Regions from separate parts of the Homo sapiens genome. Here region 2 is linked to region 1. The links come from fine-mapping of genetic effects on gene expression. A gene starts in region 1. The other region holds a variant in brackets. All regions are shown on one strand. Distances are from middle to middle.

Region 1 (2,898 bases):
CTGATCTTCTCAGGCCTTGGGACACCCTCCCGTCCCGCCCTTCCCCCGCACGCTGGGAACTCAAAAGTTATTCCCCCCTAAAATACCCTTCCCAAACTCGTCCCCATTCAACGATGGTGCCAGACTGCGACGACCTGCCGAAGACGCAGGCCGTCCCCACCCCGCTAACCTTACCACGGAGACCCCACAATGATTTCCCCAGCCCAGGCGCTATCTCTGAGACCCCACGCAGCAACTCTGACGCGCAAGGGGGCGACCCTCCGAGGACTCCCTCAGATAACCCGCCCACCCTCCAGGGGAGACCAGGCCCCCTATCACTCAAAAAAAGTGCTTTCCCGAAGCTCCCCAACACACAGCGCCACTGTCACACATAGGGACGACCCTGAGTCCCTCCGCTGATATTCCTGGCCCCTACCCAGACGGAGACCCCACACACAGAGGGCCCCCCTGGAGACCATCCTCAAAGCCACCACCCGCTACCCCCAGGCTCGCACCCAGAAAGACTCCGCGCTTCTGAAGAAACCCACCTCCACGCACTTTCTCAAAGGTGACCTCCCCCCGCTGCTGGCATATCTGGGACCCCCTCACGACCACCTCGCCCCAAGGCGACCTCGAAGTGCCCCCAACTCCGCCACTTCTCAGGAAAGAGATTGGGAGAATGCGGCAGAACTCCCCGGAGGAGCAGGCCCGCTCCTCACCGCGCCCCCGCAGGGAGAAGGGAGGACCACCTCTCCCCCAGACCCTAGCCAAACCTGACACTCGGGACCCTGGGATGGGACGATCTCCCAGGTGCCAGCTCAGGGAGTCCATGAAAAGCTTCAACGAATCGAATGAGCCCCTTCCCCAGCCATAATACCCAGCCGCCAGAGATGAGGGAGGCTATCATTATTTACATTGCCCGTGCCTGGAAGGGAAACTGAAGTTGCGCAGGAACAATCCGAGGAACTGGGCCTTGAACCGAAATTCCGAACTCGGACCCGAATAGGCCCAGACAGAACTCCGACACCGCCCCCTACGGTGCGGCACGAGAGGGCTAAGGGGCGGGGGCATGTGCACCGGAAGCTGCCTCTGCCCACAACCAAGATGGCTGAGGAGAGGGCGGAAGTGTCCGCACGTCGGGCCTCCGAGGCTTCTCTTTCTCCCCTGGCGGTCCGGCTCTCGATGGTGGCGTGACGGGGGCGGGGGTGGCGGCGCGTTCTCCTCGGTTGGGAGGGAACCAGCCCGCGAACCCAGGCCGGGAGGGGGGTTCGGCCTGGGGGGGAAGGGACTGACATGTCTCTCGAAGACCCCTTTTTTGTAGTCCGAGGGTGAGTGACAACGACGGGGGAGGGCGGAGGGTGCTCTGTACCCAAGCCAGCCAGTGCCCGGGTGCCGGCCCCAGCGTGCCCGGCGGGCTGGGCAAGGCCGTCGGGGTGCAGAGTGGGAGGCGCACGCAGGGGTATATAGGGGTCTCCGGAGTCCCCCATGCGTTTGGGTTTGCAGTCGGGGGCAGAGGCAGGCGGGAGGACCGCCTGCCCCCAGCCGCGCCCGCCGTGCCCCTGCCCGCAGCGAGGTGCAGAAGGCGGTGAACACGGCCCGCGGGCTGTACCAGCGCTGGTGCGAGCTCCTGCAGGAAAGCGCGGCGGTCGGACGCGAGGAGCTGGACTGGACGACCAATGAGCTGCGGAATGGCCTGCGCAGCATCGAGTGGGACCTCGAGGACCTGGAAGAGACCATCGATATCCTGGGGCTTTGTGGCAGAGGGTGGCATGGGAGAGCCCATTGCGGTGGCAGCCCACCTTCGGGTAGGGCTGGACCCCTAGGGACGGGGATGATATCTGGCTCCGGCCTTGACCCTTGACTCTCAGCCCACGTATAGTGGAAGCCAACCCAGGCAAGTTCAAGCTCCCAGCCGGGGACCTGCAGGAGAGAAAGGTGTTCGTGGAGCGGATGCGAGAGGCAGTCCAGGTCAGGAAAGGTCCTGCAGGCGGGGAGTGGGGGAAGGTTTGAGTGTGTTTTTTTTTCTTTCTTTCTTTCTTTTTTTTTTTTTTTTTTGAGACAGAGCCTCGCTCTGTCGCCCAGGCTGGAGTACAGTGTTGCAATCTCGGCTCACTGCAACCTCCGCCTCCCAGGCTCAAGCGATTCTTGTGTCTCAGTCTCCTGAGTAGCTGGGACTACAGGTGCCTGCCACGATACCCGGCTAAGTTTTGTGTTTTTAGTAGAGACGGGGTTTCACCATGTTGATCAGGCTGGTCTCGAACTCCTGACCTCAGGTGATCCACCCGGCTTGGTCTCTCAAAGTGCTAGGATTACAGGCGTGAGCCACCGCGCCCAGCCTGAGTGTCTTTCCTCCCTAATGCTGTCCTTACCTCCAGGAAATGAAGGACCATATGGTCAGCCCAACAGCCGTAGCATTTTTGGAGAGGAATAACAGAGAGGTAAGCCTTCCTGACCCACCCTGCCCACCTGAGCCCCTGGGGGTAACCAAGCCAGATCCCTCTGTGCGTGTTCACCTGTCCCTTTTGCGACAGTGCCCGTCCTCTCTGTGGGCAGTTATCTTCTTGCTGTCTACCTGCCTGCACTTTCTCGGTGTGTGCACCTGAACCTCTCTATGTGTATATGTCCGTGGGTTCCTCTCTACTGTGTCCTCTGGGTCTATACTGGTTTCCTGTTGCAGGAGAGGGCTGGGGGCCTGTGTACCTATCTCCTTTCTGCTTCCATGCCATTTGTCCTGTGTGCACCTGTTTCCAGGACGCATGCCTGCCTTTTACTCTTTTTTTTTTCTTTGAGACAGAGTCTTGTTCTGTTGCCCAGGCTGGAGTGCAGTGGCTTGATCTCAGCTCACTGCAACCTCTGCCTCCTGGGTTCAAGCGATTCTCCTGCCTCAGCCTCCCAAGTAGCTGGGATTACAGGTGCTCG
Region 2 (2,898 bases), 65 kb before region 1:
TCTGTAATTCCAGCACTTTGGGAGGCTGAGGTGGGAGGATCTTGAGCCCAGGAGGTCGAGACTGCAGTGAGCTATGTTTGTGCCACGGCACTCTAGCCTGGGCGACAGAGCAAAACCCTGTCTCAAAAATCAAAATAAAACCAAAACCAAAACTTCCTCTGTTGGGGATGCTCCAGGGCGTCCCAGCCTTGAACAGATGGGTCACTGCAGTAATAATCCTATGGCAGACACTGTCCCAAGGCTGCACGCACGTTACTTTGATCATCAAACAACCAGGTGATAGCCAGGCATGGTGGTGCGTGCCTGTAGTCCCAGCTACTCAGGAAGCTGAAGCGGGAGAATCTCTTGAACCTGGGAGGCGGAGGTAACAGTGAGTCGAGATCACATGACTGCACTTCAGCCTGGGAACAGAGAGAGACTCTGTCAAAAAAAAAAAAAAAACAGGCCAGACGCGGTGGCTCACGCATGTAATCGCCAGCACTTTGGGAGGCTGAGGAGGGTGGATCACCTGAGGTCAGGAGTTTGAGACCAGCCTGGCCAACATGGTGAAACCCCGTCTCTACTAAAAATACAAAATTAGTTGGGCGTGGTGGTGCACACCTGTAATCCCAGCTACTCGGGAGGCTGAGGCAGGAGAATCGCTTGAACCCAGGAGGCAGAGGTTGCAGTGAGCTGAGATTGCACCATTGCACTCCAGCCTGGGCAACAAGAGTGAAACTCCATCTCAAAAAAAAAACAAAAAAAAAACAACCAGCCAGGCGCGGTGGCTTACGCCTGTAATCCCAGCACTTTGGGAGGCCGAGGCGTGTGGATCACCCGAGGTTAGGAGTTCGAGACCAGCTTGACCAACATGGTGAAACTCCGTCTCTACTAAAAATACAAAAAATTAGCCAGGCATGGTGGTGCATGTCTGTAATCCCAGCTACTCGGGAAGCTGAGACAGGAGAATTGCTTGAACCCAGGAGTCGGAGGTTGCAGTGAGCCAAGCTCGTGCCACTGCACTCCAGCCTGGGCAACAGAGCAAGACTCTGTCTAAAAAAAAAAAAAAAACACACACACACACACACAACAACCAGGTGAGGCAAGTACTCTTGCTATCATCTCCATTTCACAGATGGAGAAACTGAGTTACTAAGTGGTAGAGTAACCTAAGTCATGCAGCCGATAACTGGGAGACAAGATTGGGACCCAGGTCGCCCAGCTGTTCTCCATGCCGGGCTGTCTCCTGCACAGCTGCTCCATGGTCCTGGCCCCACCGAAAACCAGAGCCCACAAGGTCATTCCAGCAGCACTGCCCAGGGCCTCCTCTGGGCCAGGCCGTTGGGGAACTGGAGACCCCATGGGGACCAGAAAGATTGGGGTCTCGTTCTCGGGAGCCTATGGCTTTGCAGCTGACCCAGAGTCCAGCTGACACCCAGGCAGGCAGTCAGGGTCTGTCTACACCCCCATTGCAGGAGGAGCCGACAAACAGCAGATGGACGCTGAGCTGCGGAAGGAGATGATGGCGATTTGGCCCAATCTGTCCCAGAAGACGCTAGACCTGCTGGTCACACCTCACAAGTGTAAGAGCTGAGCCCAGCCCTGGGATCCAATCCACCAGGACAGATGGAGGGGGAGGGAAAGGGGAGGCCTGGGGAGAGTGTTGGC[C/G]TGGGCTGGTATACACAGGGACCCAGGACAAGGGCCCCAAAGAGGCCTGCCCTTGGTGAGCTCACCGTGTGTGTGCCCCCAGCCACGGACCTCACCGTGGGGAAGATCTACGCAGCCATGATGATCATGGAGTACTACCGGCAGAGCAAGGCCAAGAAGCTGCAGGCCATGCGCGAGGAGCAGGTGCGCTGTTCGCCGCTCTGGGGACATCTGGGCTGGGGACAGTGGCTTGCATGTCACCACGGGAACCAACTGGAATATGAGGGTGGCTGAGCCCCAGGGCAGGTCCCTGAAAAGTAGGGGCTGTGCACAGCAGCTCACACCTGCAATCTCAGTGCTTTGAGAGGCCAGGGCAGAGGGATCGTTTGAGACCAGGATGAGACCACCCTGGGCAACACAGTGAGACTCCATCTCTACAAAATAAAACATTAGCCAGGCATGGTGGTGCACACCTGTAGTCCCAGCTATTTAGGAGGCCAAGATGGGAGGATCACTTGAGGCCAGGAGTGGGAGACCAGTCTGGGCAACATAGAAAGACCCATATCTCTACAAAAAAAAAATAAAATTAGCTGCATGTGGCGCCATGCACCTGTGGTCCCAGCTACTTGGGAGGCTGAGGCAGGAGAATCACTTGAACCTGGGAGGTGGAGGTTGCAGCAAGCCAAGATCAAGCCACTGCACTCCAGCCCGGGTGATAAGAGCAGGACTCTATCTCAAAAAAAAAAAAAAAAAAAAAAAAAAAAGTTCTTGCCAAGGACACATCATGTGGATTCATTCTTCATTCAGCTGCTCCACCAACACTTATTGAGTATTACTGTGTGCAGGGCGCTGTTCTCAGTCCTCGGGGATGCACCCATGGGGAAAATAGGCCAGAATCCCTGCCCTCAGGGAGCAGACATTCCAAGTGGGGAAATGCCAATGGTAGCAAATGACTGAATCGTGCAACATCCAGCAAAGAGAAAGAAAGTGTCGTGGGGGAAAGTGGAGAAGAATCCAGAAGATAGGAGTATCCAGGGGAGGAGGGGATGCGGTGGGAAATGGGTAGTTGGGGAGCCTCCCTGAGAAAGTGACATGTGAGCAAAGGCTTGAAGGAAAAGGGGAGAGGGAGTGAGCTAAGCAATACCTGGAAGGGTGTTCCAGGCAGAGGAAACAGCCAGTGCAAAGGCTCTGAGGCTGGACCGTGCCTGGGTTGTTTGGGTAACAGCAAAGAGGCCAGTGTGGTGGAAAAGAGCAGGGAGGAGACAAGGGCAA

Evidence for each region. PIP is the estimated chance that this variant, and not a neighbour inherited with it, causes the effect. A credible set is the group of variants that fine-mapping cannot tell apart.
Region 2: its variant is the best candidate, but not a certain one, in a credible set for the expression of STX10 in subcutaneous fat (GTEx, PIP 0.58).

The regions. Positions count from the first base shown.
Region 1 is chr19:13,148,548-13,151,445 of GRCh38, reverse strand. STX10 (syntaxin 10) reads left to right here and starts at 1,071. Exons shown (of 8, transcript NM_003765.3): 1 at 1,071-1,307; 2 at 1,549-1,718; 3 at 1,853-1,947; 4 at 2,355-2,417. The coding sequence starts at 1,273. It overlaps IER2 (immediate early response 2), which reads right to left and starts at 1,035. Exons shown (of 2, transcript NM_004907.3): 1 at 894-1,035. RefSeq lists enhancers at 901-970, 991-1,190 and silencers at 1,311-1,470, 1,511-1,560.
Region 2 is chr19:13,213,165-13,216,062 of GRCh38, reverse strand. CACNA1A (calcium voltage-gated channel subunit alpha1 A) reads left to right here. Exons shown (of 47, transcript NM_001127222.2): 39 at 1,455-1,562; 40 at 1,730-1,830. Among named protein-coding and RNA genes, the nearest start is that of IER2, 64 kb to the right of the region's middle. RefSeq lists enhancers at 1-211, 332-381 and a silencer at 262-462. The variant C/G (reference allele first, on the strand shown) is at 1,648.